Regions from separate parts of the Homo sapiens genome. Here all the other regions are linked to region 1. Evidence: fine-mapped expression QTL. A gene starts in region 1. Each other region holds a variant in brackets. All regions are shown on one strand. Distances are from middle to middle. Region 1 holds the start of DCAF16 (DDB1 and CUL4 associated factor 16). Region 2 overlaps LCORL (ligand dependent nuclear receptor corepressor like). Region 3 has its middle 8.5 kb from the start of FAM184B.

Evidence for each region. PIP is the estimated chance that this variant, and not a neighbour inherited with it, causes the effect.
Region 2: its variant is the best candidate, but not a certain one, in a credible set for the expression of DCAF16 in whole blood (TOPMed, PIP 0.60).
Region 3: its variant is the best candidate, but not a certain one, in a credible set for the expression of DCAF16 in whole blood (INTERVAL, PIP 0.81).

The regions. Positions count from the first base shown.
Region 1 is chr4:17,807,815-17,815,274 of GRCh38, forward strand. DCAF16 (DDB1 and CUL4 associated factor 16) reads right to left here and starts at 2,943. Exons shown (of 3, transcript NM_017741.4): 1 at 2,633-2,943. It overlaps NCAPG (non-SMC condensin I complex subunit G), which reads left to right and starts at 3,165. Exons shown (of 21, transcript NM_022346.5): 1 at 3,165-3,374; 2 at 4,407-4,610; 3 at 5,103-5,331; 4 at 7,039-7,184; 5 at 7,460. The coding sequence starts at 3,264. RefSeq lists enhancers at 712-861, 2,481-2,570, 2,612-3,123, 2,691-2,850, 3,124-3,636.
Region 2 is chr4:17,940,337-17,945,336 of GRCh38, forward strand. All of the region lies in intron 4 of LCORL (ligand dependent nuclear receptor corepressor like), which reads right to left. Among named protein-coding and RNA genes, the nearest start is that of LCORL, 79 kb to the right of the region's middle. The variant G/A (reference allele first, on the strand shown) is at 2,537.
Region 3 is chr4:17,786,403-17,793,862 of GRCh38, forward strand. It overlaps a transcript of DCAF16 not described here. Among named protein-coding and RNA genes, the nearest start is that of FAM184B, 8.5 kb to the left of the region's middle. The variant G/C (reference allele first, on the strand shown) is at 4,224.

The sequences.
Region 1 (7,460 bases):
AAAATCAAAGTCAGTGAACATTTTCATTATCGAATACACTGAGTTGTGCTAATAAGGTCATATGGTATGGCTTCAGGTCAGCAATTTTCCTCTAATGAGTATTTCTCTGGCTTTCACACACTCCTAGCACAGTGTCTGGCATATATGAGTGGCTCAGTAAATAAAAGAGTCAGAGAATGGCAAAGGCCTGCAGTAAGTAACTACCACAAGCATGTTCTATTTTACTCCAGGGAGAGAACAGTTCCAAGTTATATCTTGGTGATTTGGTAATGTTAGACAAAGACAAATGAGATAATTTTTTTAAGGCAGGATCAACATATATGATGCTACTACAGCAATATAAAGGAAACTGCTTATAACTTTAAGAAGAAACAATGTAATACTTCTAAGTTTAGATTATAGTACTATTACCTTGTTCAATCTGAAAAAGAGTATTCATTCTTTGTCGTGGACCGTAAGTCTTTATTAACTGAGACAGGAGAAGCTGTTGGCTTTTAATTGTGCTGTCCTCTAATATTTTTACTATTTTCACTTCAACCAGATTGCACCTGTGAGATTACTAATTGGCTATACTTCAGTTATTATGTTACTCAGAAAATTTTTAAAAAGGCTCTTACTTTCCCATAATTGTTTTTGTTCTGTTTCACAGTACAAAAGTCAGGAAAAATGTAAGCTTTAAGGCAGTATACTATGTTGTTTAAATTTAATCTAGCACCTTTGAAAAAATATTTTCAGATTATAATATCAAAAAATACTGAACCAATACCCCCATGGCTTTAACCATTAAAACAAAACAAAACAAAAAAAAAAACTAACCGAAATATAGTTAGGCTGACCTCTGGCGGCCAGATGTCTCATTCTTCTGTAACTGACAAAATGGTGTGATGTCTCTGTTGGTGAGACAGCCAAATAGAATATAGTAAAGAAATACTAGCCGGGCGCGGTGGCTCACGCCTGTAATCCCAACAGTTTGGGAGGCAAAGGCGGGTGGATCACCTGAGGTCAGGAGTTCGAGACCAGCCTGGCCAACATGGCGAAACCCCGTCTCTATTAAGAATACAAAAGATTAGCCAGGTGTGGTGGTGCATGCCTGTAACCCAGCTACTTGGGAGACTGAGGCGGGAGAATCGCTTCAACCCGGGAGGCAGAGGTTGCAGTGAGCCGAGATCGCGCCATTGCACTCCAGCCTGGGCGACAGAGCAAGACTCTGTCTCAAAATAAAAATAAAAAAATATATATTAGAAACGTCACAAAGCAAAATTATGGGCAACACAAATGTTACCACATTCTTAACTAGCAGCTGAATATCTACAAAGTTTGAGGAATTAAGCAGGAGAATGGATAAGGTATGGCATATTAATACAATGGAGTACTATAGCAACCTGTCTGTGCCGTAGTTTCCTCATCTTAAAAGAAGATCAAAGTTATCCTACAGGGTTTGTGAGCAGTAAACGAAGTAAAGTGCTTAGCATGGTGTCTGGCACATAATAAAGGTTAATTAAGTGCAAGTTACTATTATGAACATATCAATATGAACCACAGCAATATTGATTGAAAAAAGCCAGATGCACATATAATTATTCATTTAACGGTTAAAACATGCAAAATAGTACAATATCCTCATTCAGGGATTTATTCATGTCATTAATATATTAAAATATGTCATTAAGATATAGAAAGCTGCATGGTAAAAGTTAACAGTAAATTCAGAAAATCCATTACTTCTTCGGAGGGCAGGTAATTCAAAAGGAGAAAGATGTACAGGTGGCTTTAGTAATGTTCTATTTCTTCAGCTGGCAGTAGGTTACTGAGGTGTAGGAGAGGGAAAAACGGCTTCCCTCCATCCTCCTAGGTTCTTTGGCTGGGTTACAAATTAACCTGACATAGACATTAACAAGAAAAAAAACCCGTACTTAATTACATACGCAGAGGAGTCCCACCATGGTCAGATGATTGAATATTATACAGCATCCTACGCTACTCAAGAAATGGGGGCTTGCGGCTTTCTGGGGGATGGTGGCCACAAAGTTGTGGAAAGGTGAGGGGAGGAAATATACGGTGAATAAAAGTTGTCTTGGTATGCAGATAAGATCTCCCAGGTAACAAAAATTATCGCAGAGCTGCCCTCTTTCTGATACAGATCCTTTACTGATGTATATTTCCTCTGTAGATGTCAATTTCTTTTACAACAGGACAGATTTTCAGAGCGACTCCTGTGTCTGCATTTTATCAGAATACCAGCTCAAAATATACTCTAGAAGTATATTGTAGGGTGGCATATTTTGGTCTCCTACAGTCCTATTTTTGGATGGTGCATCCTGAGATCCAACAGAAGTTCTGTCTGATATAATTTCATTTAAAATTTAAAAACCTAGTTCCTACTCTTCTTTATTTTAACCACTACCCGAAAGACCTTTCCATTCTCTTGAGTTCTCCCTTAATACACTGTCCTTATGCACACTTGTAAACAGGGCCTACACAGCTGCACATCTAGAAACGGCAGCAGCTAAGTTAGCCCGCACCCCCCTTCGCAACGATCCCCGGACTGCCTGCACGCCCTGTGGAACCTCGCAGTCGGCTTCACCAGGGCAGGGACTAAGGCCTTCAAAAGACAGCATCCGTCTCCACTAACCTCGGGTCGCCCCGCTCAGCGGACCCAGCAGCGTCGTCTCCCTTCTCAGAGGTGGCCGGGCCTCCGGAACGCGCTACGAACTTTCCTTTGTCGCCGTCTCTCGAAGCGGAGCCCTCGTGTGGGGATCCCCCGCCCTTCGGCCACAAGGGAGGTTGTTATCCTCGGCAGATCTCCCGTTCTCACTCTTGGAGGATCGCTTTTTCTTTCTAGCCTCACGCTCAGCCGCACGACCCAGCCAGGCCTAACGCCAGCAGCCCTTCCCCTCCGGTGGCAAGGCCACTCCGCTCAGCTCCCGCGCCGACGCTACTTCCGGCCGAGTCAAGGCCCCTCCCCCTTAGAAACGCCACTTCCCTCCGTGAAAACGGCTGGACAAGGTTGAACCTAGACGCATGCGCCCAAAGCGCGGGGTGCGAGGTGGGTGGACCCATCGCTTCCCGCTCTCTTCTCCCAAAGCGCTTACGGCAGTCTCGCGGGATTTCCCCCTCTCGCGGGAATTATTTGAACGTTCGAGCGGTAAATACTCCCTGGGGCTGTCATAGAAGACTACTCGGAGAGCGCTGCCTCTGGGTTGGCGGGCTGGCAGGCTGTAGCCGAGCGCGGGCAGGACTCGTCCCGGCAGGGTTCCAGAGCCATGGGAGCGGAAAGGAGGCTGCTGTCGATTAAGGAGGCCTTTCGGCTGGCGCAGCAGCCGCACCAGAACCAGGCGAAGCTGGTGGTGGCGCTGAGCCGCACCTACCGCACGGTAAGCGCTCCCGGCCCCGGCCGCCGCCTCTCGCCCGCCCCGGCCCACCCTCCCTCAGGGGCCCTCCGTGGCCCTCGGGCTCGGCGCACCGTGACTCCAGCCTTGTTCACCTTCGCGACTCACTTCATAGGGATCTGAGGTTCGGAGAAGTCAGGGACTTACCCGAGGTCGCCTGGGCCCAGGCCAGAAAGCCTCCGAAGCCTGGGCGTCGTTCACACGGGCCCCGCCTTGGCTTTTCTGAGCCGACACCCCCAGCTTCTGGGCGGCGTGGACCGTTATTCCTTAGTCCGATCGTGAACGTGGAGAGAAACATTTACGACCACCGAGGCGATCAGACATCAAATATTGAACCGCAGAGTGGATCCTGAATGCGGGGGTTCAGTGGTCGTTGCCCCTGGGGTCATCGCTCCCCGCCGAACATCAAATGATTCTACCCTTGTCCTACGGTTACGTTGAATCCAATCACCAAATACCAAATTATTTTTAGGGCCTGGCCATTCTTATTTATGTACATACTATTTGTTTGTTTTGAGTGGAACCTTGAGAAGAATAGAACAATTAATTTGGGGAAGATGAATTATCTTGAGGTCCAAGAAAAATTGTGAGTAAACATCACAGGGCTTTGAGGATATGAGATAGGATGTGCAAGTTATCTCATAAAGAAACTGCTGGTGATAGGAAGGCCTGAATATGAGAAATATAAAAGCCAGTATTGATTTTGGGTTGTTGAAGAAGCGTATTTGTAACGTACTGGTACTAAAGGCTTATTGAGAATCAAAGATATTGAAAAAAATATATCAAAGGAATCTTTTCACTGTCAAAAGTCAAGCTTGTGTACTCCCATTATAGCCTGGAGAGAAATTCATGCAAATTGATTGCCCTTTGGCTGGTTTGGATAATTAAGAGTTTACTAAATAAATATTTTAATTTGTCTGCATTATTATGGCTAGTGCTTTCATCAGTCTTAGGGTGATGTTGGGAATAAAGGATTTTTATCGGTGCAGTTTATGAAGGGTTTCTTTTGTCTTTCAGATGGATGATAAGACAGTTTTTCATGAGGAGTTCATTCATTACCTTAAATATGTTATGGTGGTCTATAAACGTGAACCAGCTGTGGAGAGGGTAATAGAATTTGCAGCAAAGTTTGTTACCTCATTTCACCAATCAGATATGGAAGATGATGAGGAAGAGGAAGATGGTGGCCTTTTAAATTATTTGTTTACTTTTCTCTTAAAGGTACTATGAAAATGATAGCTTTGGGGAGGGATTTTAGAAAATTTTGCCACTTTAAAAGAGTCGTGGGAGTTTGTATGTTTTTGACAATGAAATATCTAGTGATTGAAAAAACCTGAATGAGTCTACCTTTCATAGGAAATATTAGAATTATCATTATGATTAAAAAGTGGACTTTAACTCCAGCATTAAATTTTTAATGACCTCTTTAAACCAGTTCTCCTTTGTTTATTTTAAATGAGTTCTGTATTTTAGAAGCCTCTACAAAGAGGACTATGTAACTTAGCAAAGACTTCTTTCAGACTGTTCATTTTGAGACTGTATAAAATATATATATTTGCTATACATATGGACCAAGGTAGCATTATAGGTTCTCTTCAGGAAATGAATTGTTGTTGTAACTTCTTGCATTCCGAATGTATAGAGTTCAGATAATATTGATTATTTGGGAGTGGTATGTGACTATGAATAAATTTTGATTTGTTTCTGTTTTAGTCTCATGAAGCAAACAGCAATGCAGTGAGATTTAGAGTGTGCCTGCTCATAAACAAGCTTTTGGGAAGTATGCCAGAAAATGCTCAGATTGATGATGATGTGTTTGATAAAATTAATAAAGCCATGCTTATTAGATTGAAAGATAAGATTCCAAATGTGAGAATACAGGCAGTTCTGGCGCTTTCACGACTTCAGGATCCCAAGGATGATGAATGCCCAGTGGTTAATGGTGTGTGTAGTTTCCTAAATCTTTTTTCAGATTTGTTGATTTTGTTAAATTCTCAGTATTTGAAATTTTTTATTATGGTCTATACATTTGAAGAGTATAGGTAATTAATATATGATTCCGATTAAACAAAAAAAACCTAAGTAGCAACCACCCAGCTTAAAAAAAAAAGTCAGTACTTGCATCCTATCCCAGTTGCATCCCTGTCCCTCAGAAGTAACTATTAAATCCTCAGTTTGGGGTTAATTAGTCTCTTGCTTAAATTAAAAAAAATTTTTTTGCATAAATCACATATGTCTATCTTAATGTTTTCCTGTCATTTTGTGTAAATCATGCTGTATGTATATATTTAGCAGCCAATTATATTTCTATATAATACCTGTTACTGTGTTTTGCCCATTTTTTCATTGGGTTTTTAATTTAAAATACTATTTTAAAAAATTCATTTGCATTCTTTATATATTTTGAAAAGAAATCCTTGGGTTATATGAATTGTAGATCTCTTCCTGTTTTAGGTGGCTCATTGGGGTATCATTGTTTCACTCCCTTTGGGGTATCTTTTTTTTGAACAGAAATTCTTATGTCAAAAATATAAATCTCTGCCATTATGATTCGTATTTTTTAATCTCTTTTTTAAGGAACTTTTTCTTACCTATGGGGTCATAAAGGTAGTTGTATTTCATTTTTCCATATATGCCTAGGTATGTTTTAGGCACTCTTCTGTCCTTTTTGTCCCTATTACCAGTTTTATAATCACTGGTATATTTATCACTATAGTAGTTGGTATTTTTTTTGGTGTTAAAAGATACCCATAATAATATTGTGTAAAACATAGGTATTTGATAGTCAACCTGTACTTAATAATTGAGGTAGGAAAGATGTGAGAAGTACAGATAAATATATTTAAATATAAGAAATGGGTTTGTTTCAATGAATAAAACCAAAAAATATTTCCTTTTAGGTCTCATTAAAAACCAAAATAATGGGCCCTTATAAAGCCATATCAGTTTAAAATAAACTGTCTGCTATAGTAAGCTTTCTCTTAAATATTGAGGAGTAGCACAGACATAATCTTAATGATGAATTTTCTGTGACTTTTAGGGCTATTTGTTTTCACTTTTGGCCTAAGAGCCAGTCCGTTGACTAATTCCCCCTTGTGTCTTTAGAAGGGAAGTTGGTGGCCTGCGCAGCAGTGACTCAGGCCTGTAATCTCAGCACTTTGGCTCCAACCTGGGCAACATAGTGAGACCTTGTCTCCAAAAAAAAGAAAAAGAAGGAAGTTGGTGGGAAAAAAACTTCAACTAAAATATGTGAGACTAAAAAAATGACATTACTTTCTATTACAGATGGGTTCTCACTCGGGCTGGATTGCAGAGGTGTGGCCTCAAACTCCTGGGCTTAAGTGATCCTTCCACCTCAGCCTCCTAAGTAACTGGAAGCGCCACTACCATGCCTAGCTAATTTTTTATTTTAAAATTATTTTGTAGAGACAGGGGTCTTTCTATATTGCTCAGGCTGGTCTTGAACTCTTGGCTTCAAGCTCTCCACCTACCTTGGCCTCCCAAAGTGCTGGTTATAGGCAGTAGCCATCATGCCCAGCCTATCTTTATCACATTAAAGGCATTTTAAAATATCAAAATGTGTGTTATTTTATGACTGTAGTTAAATAAATAATTTCATCAGTACTAAAATGTATTGCTTTATTTTTAGCATATGCTACTTTGATTGAAAATGATTCAAATCCAGAAGTTAGACGGGCAGTGTTATCATGTATTGCACCATCAGCAAAGACTTTGCCAAAAATTGTAGGGCGCACCAAGGATGTGAAAGAGGCTGTCAGAAAGCTGGCTTATCAGGTAAATAAGTTCAATGTCTTGTGTTGGCATATTCTTAAAGGACAAGGAGCCATTTTCTTAAAGTGCCTTTGAAAAATACTTGGCATGTAATAATTTCTTCAGTTGAGGTTTTATGGAGAACACAGGTAATTTAGGTAGAATCTTACTGTATTAAGTATGTTACCAGGTATTAATTTCTTTTGGAGATTCTGGGTAATTTTCTAAGATGGTGATATTCTTATGAAATCTATAAATTGTGTTGAGGTTAATGACCATCTTTATAAATTATTTTTAAGG
Region 2 (5,000 bases), 130 kb after region 1:
CAGTGTGGTTAAGCCCACGGGCTCCTTCTCTGAATCATGTTTTTAAATGCATGAATATATAGGAAACAAACTATATTAAAATAGTTTTATATTACTATAATATAGTAATATATATGTAATATATATTATGTAATATATGTAATATATATGTATTATGTAATATATGTAATACAGATGTAATATATATGCCTCTTTTAATGCATTAAAATATAAAATCTAGTAGTAAGTCCAATGTCTACCATAATTTCAAAGTAGTTGAGAATGTAAAAAATAATTAAAGATATGATATAAAAATATTTATGATTTCTATTATCGGAACAGGTACTACTAATACCACTGTTGTTTGTTGTCTATGCTTACAGTTGAAGTAAATGTTACATTTCAACCAAGGGTCAATGAAAATAAAAATGTAATTTTTTCAACCATTCAAGTTCATGGACCCATGAAATCCTATCTATGAACTTTTGGGCAAACTATGTGGATCCCAGGTTAAGAATCTCTGAGCTAGAAAGTAAAATTAAAGATATATAAAAATCTGATAAATAGTATCATGAAAATTACAGCAGCAAAGTAGTATATGCTGATTTTAAGTTGCAATTACGAAATGTTATATCCACTGTTTCACTTCTTGTAACTGTGAGGTAGAAAAAGAGAGGTCAGAGAACAACCTGCCAAGCAAAATAAAGTAGAAAAGATTCAGAGGTTTCTGAATATTATCAGAAAAAGAAAACAAATGTTTAAAAATGCATCCCCATCAGGGCCGGGCGCTGTGGCTCACGCCTGTAATGCCAGCACTTTGGGAGGCCGAGACGGGCAGATCACGAGGTCAGGAGATCAAGACTATCCCGGCTAACACGGTGAAACCCCATTTCTACTAAAAATACAAAAAATGAGCTGGGCATGGTGGTGGGCACCTATAGTCCCACCTACTCGGGAGGCTGAGGCACTATATATGCACATATACACTATATGCATATATACTATATATGCACTTATACATTTTTATATGCTACTCAGGAGGCTGAGGCAGGAGAATGGTGTGAACTCGGAAGGCGAAGCTTACGGTGAGCCGAGATTGCACCATTGCATTTCAGTCTGGGCAACAGAGTGAGACTCTGTCTCAAAAAAAAAAAAATCATTGATAACCACCATAACCATAGACTGCCATAATTATTCTGTATCAATGTTCTCAGACATTCCACTCCCATCCTGCTTCATCTAGCTTCCACTTCTTATATAAGCTAACGATATATTCCACCATGCAAGACAAGTTCAGAAGAGATGAATAATAATGGCACAAGTCTTCCAGCTAGCCTCTTACCCTTGATATACAAAACACTTAAGTATTGTAATTGAAAAGGAAGGGTAAACCATTTTCTTCTTATAGGAAAGCAGTCAAGCAATTTACTCTAGATACATTACCCCAATGTTCATATTTCTCTGCACAATAGTCTGAGTTGTAGTGGAAATTTGACCAGAGATTATTTGGAATGCTGAATCATTTCCCATGATAGAATTTTTTTTTTTTTTTGCCTCCTCAGCAGTGATGACACTTGCTATTAAGTATCATAAATCTCTGAACCATCAGAGTCATTTAGATAATGCCTTATTCCTATCACAGCCACTTTCAACACAGCTTTAAAGTTATTGTCTAGAGGCTATTGTGGAGAATTATAGTTAGGGGTGCCACAAATATCTGACTTGTTAGAACATAACCAGTCTAACCAGTATGGTACTCAAGAAATGTCAAAACCTTTATATAAGCTTTTAGATCTACTATAGCTGGGGCATTCTTATGAACAAATGTAAAACAAAGTAAAAGTGTTAAAAAGCAGATTTGTTTCCAAAGAAAAGCAAATATTTTGACAATAGAGTGAAACCCAAATAAGGGTAAAAAGTCAATTCTAAGTCAGTTAAGTTTTGTAAGGACCACTATGGACTACTATAGGATTTAAATGCATTATTCTCTGGTCATGACAAGACCATGCAAAATATCTAAATGCTACAAAGCAAGCAGAAAGGTAAACTGAGGAATTAGGCTTAATAATCAACTACCAAGACTCATACTATTGCTCTATTTTATCTACTGAATGAGCCATAAAAGACCCTCCCAAATGTTGCTTTTTAATCATCTTTAATTTTCAAATAGCATAAGACTGTAAGCAAAATGCAAACAAATTACTATTAGTATTAAGAAAAGCATTTACCTAGAAAATACTGTAATAGGATAATTACAGAGGCACAGAGCTGGGTTTCAACTAGAGATCATCTTTCATTTTTATAAGTTACTAAAAATCAATTATCAAAACTCTAATATAACTATGATACTTGCTCAGGGTAATAAAAGATACTGAGAAAATCTATGTATTTTCTGCTCTCTAGGAGTTAACAACCTAGTATGGAAGAATACAATATAAAGATTATATATTTCTTGGAGACGTCCCCGACCCCTAGGCCACAGACTGGTACCAGTCCATGGCCTGTAAGGAACTGGGCTGCATAGCAGGAGGTGAGCAGCCAGCAAGTGAGCATTACC[G/A]CCTGAGTTTGCCTCCTGTCAGTTCAGCAGTAGCATTAGATACTCATAGGAGAACCAACCCTATTGTGAACTGTGCATGAGAGGAATCTAGGTTGCATACTCCTTATGAGAATCTAACCAATGCCTGATGATCTGAGGTGTAACAGTTTTATCCCGAAACCATCTCCCTGCAACACCTTGCCTGAGAAAAATTGTCTTCTACGAAACCTGTCCCTGGTGCCAAAAACGTTGGGGACTGCTGATCCGGCGGCTCATTTTGTCTTCAGTTTCAACACCCCTGAGATGACAAGAGAATCAAGAGCTCATATATTATTCTCCCTATTGTATCTCCACCGTATCCTACTGTAACAAGCAATGTCCTCCTTGAGACTAAACACTAAACCTTACTCAACTATTTGGTGATCAACCATGGTAACCACAACTCAGTAAGGTAACTCAGTGAGTATCTCATAAATGAAATGACTCTTCACTCTTCAAAGGGAATAAGGACTGCATTAATAATTGAGCAATAAACTAATCTTTTAAAATTGGTAGTTCACAGAAAAACAAAAATGAGAAAACATTCCTTTATTCTCTCACACCTTATACCAAAAGTTACTAACACTCGCTGAAAGGAATTACTAGAGAAAAATGATTTTTCTTCTGGAAGGCTTATGAGTTAGCTGGTTCAAAGGCTGGCAAGAATGAAGACTTAACACATTGCTTATGTTGCTTTCACTTTGGCTTACTATTTCACCACTGATATGCGCTGCAAAGAATAAATACAAAATCAAGGATAAAGTAAGTGGACATGGGCTTCCTGAAATTTCTTTTTATTCTACAGATTTGATGGTCTCAATAGCCCATGTAGAATGAGGAATATGCCAGGTCACAGGAATATAAAGAATACAGAATCATAGGACCTTTGGTTTTTAAAACATTTTAGGAGTTTTTGGCGGGGGTAGGTTAAGGGGTACAGACACATTATCATAAGAATCCATACCATTATCACAAAAGAAAACTTGCCAGACCCATTATATACTTCCAAATTTCATTTGTTACTCACACTTTACTTAAGGTTTTAGTGAAAGCCATGTCCTACCATAGCTTAATGAAGCTACCCACCCTAGGTGGTTTTCCTCAAAAGAGGATATGGGCATGGTATCTTCTTTTAGTCTTAAATCTAGTTTACCCATACTTATTCATGCCACTGTCCATAGTTTTTTGCCTAATTAAAGCCAGGACCTGACCACTGTATTTGTGAATGTCCTAGACTTGTTAAAGCAGAAGTCTGATTCCCTTGTGACTACAGTTTTCCCTATTACATTCTTTAGCAGATACATAGTCTTTTTAAGTAGGCTCATTGATTTTAGTTACTTTAAAATGTACAATTAAATTATTATTGACTATAGACCCCTGTTGTGCTATCAAATACTAGGTCTTACTCATTCAATCTTCTACCTTTTCTTTGTACCTATTCACTATCCCATTCCACATTTTTTAACTGGAATATTTATTTCTGTAAGAAAGAACTGCCCCTTCCTTCTCATTTATTTATTCACTTATATCAGTATTAAAACATGGATATTAATTTTATTCTACAGGTAATAATCCAAATTATTGTTATAACTATTGTTGTTTACTTTGTTGCTCAAATTGTTGCAACTCTGGCCATCAGGAGCTCTTTCAGGATGGCTCCTGTGTTCCCATACTTTTTTTTGAGCACTTCCTTACTTTCTGGCAACACAAAATGCTCCAAGCTCATCTTTATTTTCCTAGCCCCAGCCATGCAAACAACCACTTCTCCAAGGGGCTTTGGTTCCTTTTATTGGAGAATTCTTATTTTATGAAGGATATATATAAATAGAAGTCCTGCACTTCAGCGGACATCTTAGATAATAACCCCTACCTATACGCACATACTATTTTACAGAGCACTTGTCTTAGTCTATTTGGGTTGCAATAATAAAATACTTTAGACTGGATAGTTTATAAACAACAGAAATTTGTTTCTCACAGTTCTACAGGCTGGAAAGTCTACAGATAAACTTTACAAAAACAGTATGAGCAGGCTGTGGATATAATATACAACTAGCCAATAGCAGACAGTAAACTGCAGCAGACAGTTCATAATTATATGTAAAATAAAAATGGTGAAATAATATACAAAACTAATTTATCACACTTCCCAGGTACAGTATTTAATCACACCCTCTGCAAGAATTATAGATTCCTTATATCTTAGCAAATTAAGAAACACAGAGAAAGAATAAGACGCTGAGGTTCCAAAGTACTTTAGAGATAAGGGTAATTCTTGACAGCAGTTAACTACATCACATTATTAAATGAGGTACATGGGAAAACTCATGTATTATTAGAGCATGTTTTACAGAGTACTATTATTATAAAAATTACATTTAAAAGATGATAATCTTTTAAATTATGTGAGAATACAAACAAAAAATATCAGAATCACTCATGACAC
Region 3 (7,460 bases), 21 kb before region 1:
GTTTCTGACAGAGCAAGTGTGCACTGGCTGTAAGCACCGCTGAGCCCCCATTTTCAGTTTTGGCTGCGGTCCTCATAACCTAATTATCAGAGGTAAAGGTTGATGTAGCAGATAAGACGCCACAACACTGCGTAACATGAAATTCAGGTAATTTTTCCTCCCACCTCTCTTGGACCCTATCCTAAATGTGTTAAACGTCACTATATCTTTCCAACTATATTTTGTTTAAAAGCGATAAACCATGTGATTTGAGCCTCTTAATTTGCGGTGTGAGGTTTCCTGTCCATGACACCTGGGACAGCCTGCCTAATCGTGTATTTTAAGGTTACTATTGCATCAAGGGAACTGCCTACATGACATTGTTGTAAGTGGGTTTTTGCACAGATGTGCAAGTGTTCCCACAGAAATATTCCCCCGCACCACTTGTTTGCTGGTAGAACTGAATACCTTCCCACAACTTGATTAGTCATTGTTTTTGCCTGGCTTTCTTGCTGCTTACAAAGAGCTCTTCCTTAATAGGGGCTTTTAGCACTTTGCCTATCATATATATTGCAAACATTTCCCGCAGTTAGCGGATTTTTTTTCTAGCTTTCTCATGCTCTATAAACATTTTGAATTTTTATGTAGGAAAATCTGTTGATCTTTTCCCTCACATTTTTTGGCTTTTTCCTCATGCTTAGAAAAGCCTTTTCTACCCCAGATTATGAGGAAAAGGGAATCCATAGTTTATCCTAGTACTTTCATGACTTCATTTAAAATATGGTTTATCTACCTGGGATTTATGCTGATATATGGAATGAGGTTAGACTCCAGACTTATGCTTTTCCAGATGGCTAAATGGTTGTCCCAACAGGTATTAAATAATTCATCTTTACCACGCTGATAATCTAAGTGTTGCCTTAGGTGATTTCTTTGGTAAAAATTTACTTCGGTAGATTTACTTAGGCTAAAGCTTTTAATTAGTATTTTTCTTTCCTAATCAGTTAAGTGGCACAGGTAACTCGATTATTGTTATTACTCCTAATATATTACTCATCTAAAACCAAGTTCACATTCTTGAGTATCTAGAAGGCTTTTTCCCCTACTATGCCTGACTCATTCCTACTCATCTTTCAGATCTCAGCCTGAATGTCAGTTCCATAGGAAGGCTGTCTCTGTAGTTGCAGATCAGTCTGCATGTCCTTAAGATATGTTCTCGTAGCTCTGCATTTCCGTATAGCACCTATACCATATTTTATTTTTAAAAGCTGATGTTTTCTGTCAAACATCTTCCCTTTTTTGAGTGAATGTAAGAACACACGTGTAAATTAGCATCATGTTTTTTTTTTTTTAACTGTAATCCTAACACACATTAACTAGTATTCAGGGTTTCATTAAACGTAGCATGGTATCAAATCTTCCATCTCATCTCCCAGGGAGTAAAATGAAAACCTCTTTTACACAATGGTGACGTTTGTACTGAGATTTCAGTATATTGACATGACACCATGGAGAATGACATTTTGGAATAAAATGTTTTATAGCAAAGTCATAGTCAGATTGTGTTAAATATTGATATGATCATTTGAGCTATGTACTAAGTGGCAACTCAAATTTTTTAATGGACTAAAGTATCGGTAATATGTCTGATCTATGGTTGAATATTGCATTGTAGTTGTTTCTCAATTTCTCTTTTTGGAATTGACTCCTGCTGTTTTTGGTGGTGGTTGTCCTCCACAGTGTCTTTGCAGACAAGTATTATCCAGAGTATTTACCTGGGGTTAGAAATTCTCAAATATTAGTAAACATAAAATTTGTTTATATTTACTAAACAAGGAGTTTGATAAAAATGAGTATTTCTGCTTCCCCATCTCAGAAATTTTGATTCATCGGTCTGGGGTCAGGCATTTAAAACAATCTCTTCAGTGATGCTGTTGTAGATGCTACCAGACACCATGTAGAGAATTGCTTCATGGCCCAACCAACCCTTGCTAGTTCCCTCTAATTGCTTTGTGATGTTCTTCTTGTCCTCTCTGCTATCCACATCCCAAAATCCTTCAATTCTCAGTTCAAATCACACCCATGAGGTAGCCCTGGACTGACTACTCCAGTCAGAGGTGCTGTCTTTGAGCTCCCGTAGCAGTGAGTTATTTCATGAAATGTTAGAAATATTGTATACTAATAACACATTATGACACAGTATTGCAACATTTAAAATAAAGCAACATAATTGAATTTATCATTTTGAGATACTGTGATTCAGAGGTCTAGTTTTAAGTTCAGAGGTCTAGTGTTAAGTTCAGTTTATTTCAACACTGACTTTAATAGCTGTTATAACCGAAAACCTATGAAATTTCATTGATTCAAGCGAAGAATATCATTACCTGTACTTACTAAGTTATGTTATAAGTTTTGCAATCTCATCCACCAATTTTCAAAAAGCACTTTGGTGAAATTCAGTAAAGTTATTATCTTCCCTGACCAATCAATTCTCAAAGCTAATCATAAAATGATGATTTTTGAACACATAATATATACTTATGGTACAATATTCAAAAGTGAAAAAATGAAAAGGTTCCCTCCCACCTTTGTTCCTGGTCACTGTTTCCACTCCCCCAGGGGCAACCAGTTCTATTAATACAGGAGCATTCTGAGCATGTAGATATTATTTTCTGACCCATTTTGTGCTTACTACCATAATGAATGCAGAAGGACATGGTTCTCCCACACCATATCTCCTCCACATTCCTCAGGCTTATTTGCTTAGAATTTCACTAACCACTTAATATGACTACAGTTGTAGTAACATTATGGTTCATGGTCAAAGAATGATCACAATTACTCCTACTTTCTTATACAACACCTGCCTCCCATACTATTTTTTTTTTTAAGTCACTACCTGATGGGGATGTACTGGAATCTGCACTGGCCTCAATGTTCAGCAAAAATCTGCTCTTAGGCACTGACCTTGGCCTTTGGGAGGCTACATAGCTAACTTCCACCTTCAATATTGTCTTTGTTATTCCAGAAATTGTACCTGATCAATAATAATGGTTTGGTTTTCAGACAAACATCATATCTGGTCAGATTAACAGCATCTGCAGTATTAACGAAGCAAGCATATTATTAAGGTGATGCTAATTGCTAAACTACACAAGTAGCTTGACATGGTTTTTTTGGTCACATTAAAGTGACTGAGTTACTGGTCTTTGGACCTCTTTCCTGTCCAAAGTGAATCAAGGATCAGCTCCTTCTATCTTGCGGGTCCACTATCCCCTAGAGCCTGACAGTCATCTGCATCCAGCCAGCAAAATGCAAAAAAGAACACAGAGAAGGTATATTCACTTCTAAAACACCTTGGCCTTGAAGTAACACACCAATTCTGTTGTCACTCCATCGGCAAAAACTGATATGCACTATCTAGATATAAGGGGATCAGGGAAATGTACTTTTTGACTGGCTAGCAATTTTTCATAACTGTACACTATGAAAAGGGAGCACACCTTTTGTTTTTTGAGGCGGAGTCTCACTCTGTCGCCAGGCTGGAGTGCAGTGGCACGATCTTGGCTCACTGCAGCCTCCGCCTTCTGGGTTCAAGCGATTCTCCTGCTTCAGCCACCTGAGTAGCTGGGATTACAGGTGTGTGCTGCTATGCTTGGCTAATTTTTTTGTATTTTTAGTAGAGAAGGGGTTTCACTATGTTGGCCAGGATGGTCTTGATCTCCTGACCTCGGGGAGCACTCATTTGTAATGGACATAAAATTAACTAGTGCAAATAATTCAGACTTATTGCAGATTATCTGTTTTTGTTTTGTTTTGTTTTGTTTTTTTAAACAAGGTCTCTTACTCTGTCACCCAGGCTGGAGTATAGTGGTGTGGACTCAAGTGATCCTTCCACCTCTGCCTCCTGAGTAGCTGGGACCACAGGTGCATGCCACCACCATACCTGGCTAATTTAAAAAAATTTTTGGTAGAGATGAGGTCTCCCTATGTTGCCCAGGCTGGTCTCACACTTCTGAACTCAAGCGATCCTCTCACCTTGGCCTCCCAAAATGCTGGGATTTTAGGCATGAGCCACCACACCTGGTCTGAACGTTCATTTTAAAATAAAGGTAAACAAAAACATTCCAGTTATAAACTGAAGTGAAAAAAAAAATCTCACTGCAATGTAAGCTTTATGAAGGCAGGAATTTTTGTCTGTTTTGTTTATTGCTAAATTCTTAGCACTTGGCACTGTGTAGGTG[G/C]TCAATAAATATTTGCTGAGTGACTGAATGTGCTTCTATTAATAAGCAAAAACATTAATGTGTATGTACTACAAAAGTAAACTGCTACAAATAATAATTGTAGAAAGTGTCAATGTTTTGTACAGAAACTGATACTGAGAACTTTCTGGTAGTTGAATAACAGGGAAGTAGAAGGATAATATTTAAAATAGTAAGACTAGATAATGTCTAAAAGAATAACTCAAAAATGTAAAAAAAATTTAAATAATAATATATGGTAGAATAATACAGATCTGGTTATTTTTCATTCATTCTAATGCAGAATTGGTGTGCTAAAATTCAAAATTTTAAACAAAATAAGTGTTAAGAACTGTTTGATTTTTAGTTAATTTATGCCACTTAGATAATTAGTTTTTAGGAAGAAGTACAATTTGGGAATTCTTCAGTCTTTTGGGGATAACTTAAAAACAGTATGTCAACTTTCCTACCCAAATTTCATGAAAACAAAAAAAACAAAAAAAACTCCAAAGACATAAATATCATATATGATAAATCCCCTTGAATTTGGATAAAGAATGTGAAGAAAAGGAGAAAGTATTAGAGAAAAATGAGATACCCACAAATATTCTCTTCTCAGTAATAAAATTTGAAATTGTATCTTAAATGTGAAAGCTAAAACTATAAATCTTCTAAAAAAATAGAAGACTATTTTCATAATATTCAAGTTAACAAAGATTTGTTAAAGCACTAACCATAATACAAAAAGAAATCTGATAAATTAGATTTCATCAAACTTGAAAACTTCTACTCATCAAAATATACCATTAAGAAAACAAACAATGGCTGGGTGTGGTGGCTCACACCTGTAATTCCAGCACTTTGGGAGGCCAAGGCGGGCAGATCACTTGAGGTCAGAGTTCGAGACCAGCCTGGCCAACATGGAGAAACTCTGTCTCTACTAACAACAACAACAACAAAAACCTACAAAAATTAGCTGGGTGTGGTGGCACACACCTGTAATCCCAGTTACTTGGGAGGCTGAGGCACAAGAATTGCTTGAGCCTGGAAGGCAGAGGTTGCAGTGAGCTGAGATCCCGCCACTGCACTCCTGCTTGGGCATCAGAGTAAGACTCTGTCTTAAAAAAAAGAAAATAGGCAAGGCATAGAATGACATAAGAAATTCATTATATAAATAAACAACTTGTATACAGTGTATATAAAAACTCCTATAGGCTGGGCATGGTGGCTCATGCCTGTAATTTCAGCTGGGGGATTTTGGGAGGTTGAGAGGGTAAGATTGTCTGAGGTCAGGATTTCGAGACAAGCCTGGGCAACAGTGTGAGCCCATTTCTAAAAAATAAAAAAAACAGAACTACAAATTAATAAGAACAAGATAATCTATTTTACAAGTGGCCAAAACCCTAGACAAGTACTTGCAAAGAGGTATCTGAATGTCTCATAAGCATATAAAAAGGTGTTTAACAACACTGATCAAAGAAAATTAAATTAAATTAAATCAAAATTAAATTAAATCAAAGTAAATTAAAGTCACACTGGGATACCATTAAACAACCACCAGAATGAGTAAAATTAAAAGGACTGACAATCACAAGTGTTTGTAAAGATATGGAGCAACTGGAACTTCCATACATTGTTGGTGAGAGTGTAAAATGATACAGTCACATTAAAAAGTGTTTGGCATTGACAAATGGGATCTAATTAAACTAAAGAGCTTCTGCACAGCAAAAGAAACTACCATCAGAGTGAACAGGCAACCTACAGAATGGGAGAAAAATTTTGCAATCTACCCATCTGACAAAGGCCTAATATCCAGAATCTACAAAGAACTCAAACGAATTTACAAGAAAAAAATAAACAACCCCATCAACAAGTGGGTGAAGGATATGAACAGACACTTCTCAAAAGAAGACATTTATGCAGCCAAAAGACACATGAAAAAAATGCTCATCATCACTGGCCATCAGAGAAATGCAAATCAAAACCACAATGAGATACCATCTCACACCAGTTACAATGGCGATCATTAAAAAGTCAGGAAACAACAGGTGCTGGAGAGGATGTGGAGAAATAGGAACACTTTTACACTGTTGGTGGGACTGTAAACTAGTTCAACCATTGTGGAAGTCAGTGTGGCGATTCCTCAGGGATCTAGAACTAGAAATATCATTTGACCCAGCCATCCCATTACTGGGTATATACCCAAAGGATTATAAATCATGCTGCTATAAAGACACATGCACATGTATGTTTATTGAGGCACTATTCACAATAGCAAAGACTTGGAACCAACCCAAGTGTCCAACAATGATAGACTGGATTAAGAAAATGTGGCACATATACACCATGGAATACTATGCAGCCATAAAAAATGATGAGTTCGTGTCCTTTGTAGGGACATAAATGAAGCTAGAAACCATCATTCTCAGCAAACTATCGCAAGGACAAAAAACCAAACACTGCATATTCTCACTTATAGGTGGGAATTGAACAATGAGAACACATGGACACAGGAAGGGGAACATCACACACCGGGGCCTGTTGTGGGGTGGGGGGAGGCAGGAGGGACAGCATTAGGAGATATACCTAATGTTAAATGACGAGTTAATGGGTGCAGCACACCAACATGGCACATGTATACATATGTAACAAACGTGCACATTGTGCACATGTACCCTAAAACTTACATAAAAAAAAAGTGTTTGGCAGTTTTATTAAAAATAAATACACAACTACTCTGATATAGCAATTTGGTGCCTAGGTATATACCCAAAGGAATGAATACACATATCCACAAAAAACCAAACCAAAACAATACACACAGAATGTTTATTATAGCTTTATTCATAATAACAAAAAATTGGAAATAAATGTCAACAGGTAAAAGGATAAATGAATTATGATATATTCATATAATCAAATAGTCTATAACAATAAAAAAAAGAAGAAGTACATTGCTGAAAGAAGCCAGGCATAAAACAATATATACTGTATGATTCCATTCACATGAAATCTGAGAACAACCAAAACTAACAGATCTTTAGAAAAGAAGAGTTATTTCTGCGAGATGTATAGACTAGGAAAGGGCATAAGAGAATTTGAAATTTTTAATACTTTGATCTGAGTGTATACATTTTTATATGATCTTGATACGAATGTATACACATGTAAAAAAATCAAGTACACTTATGATTAGTGCACTCTATTTACTGTATATTTGTGATTTCTTACTTAGAAAAA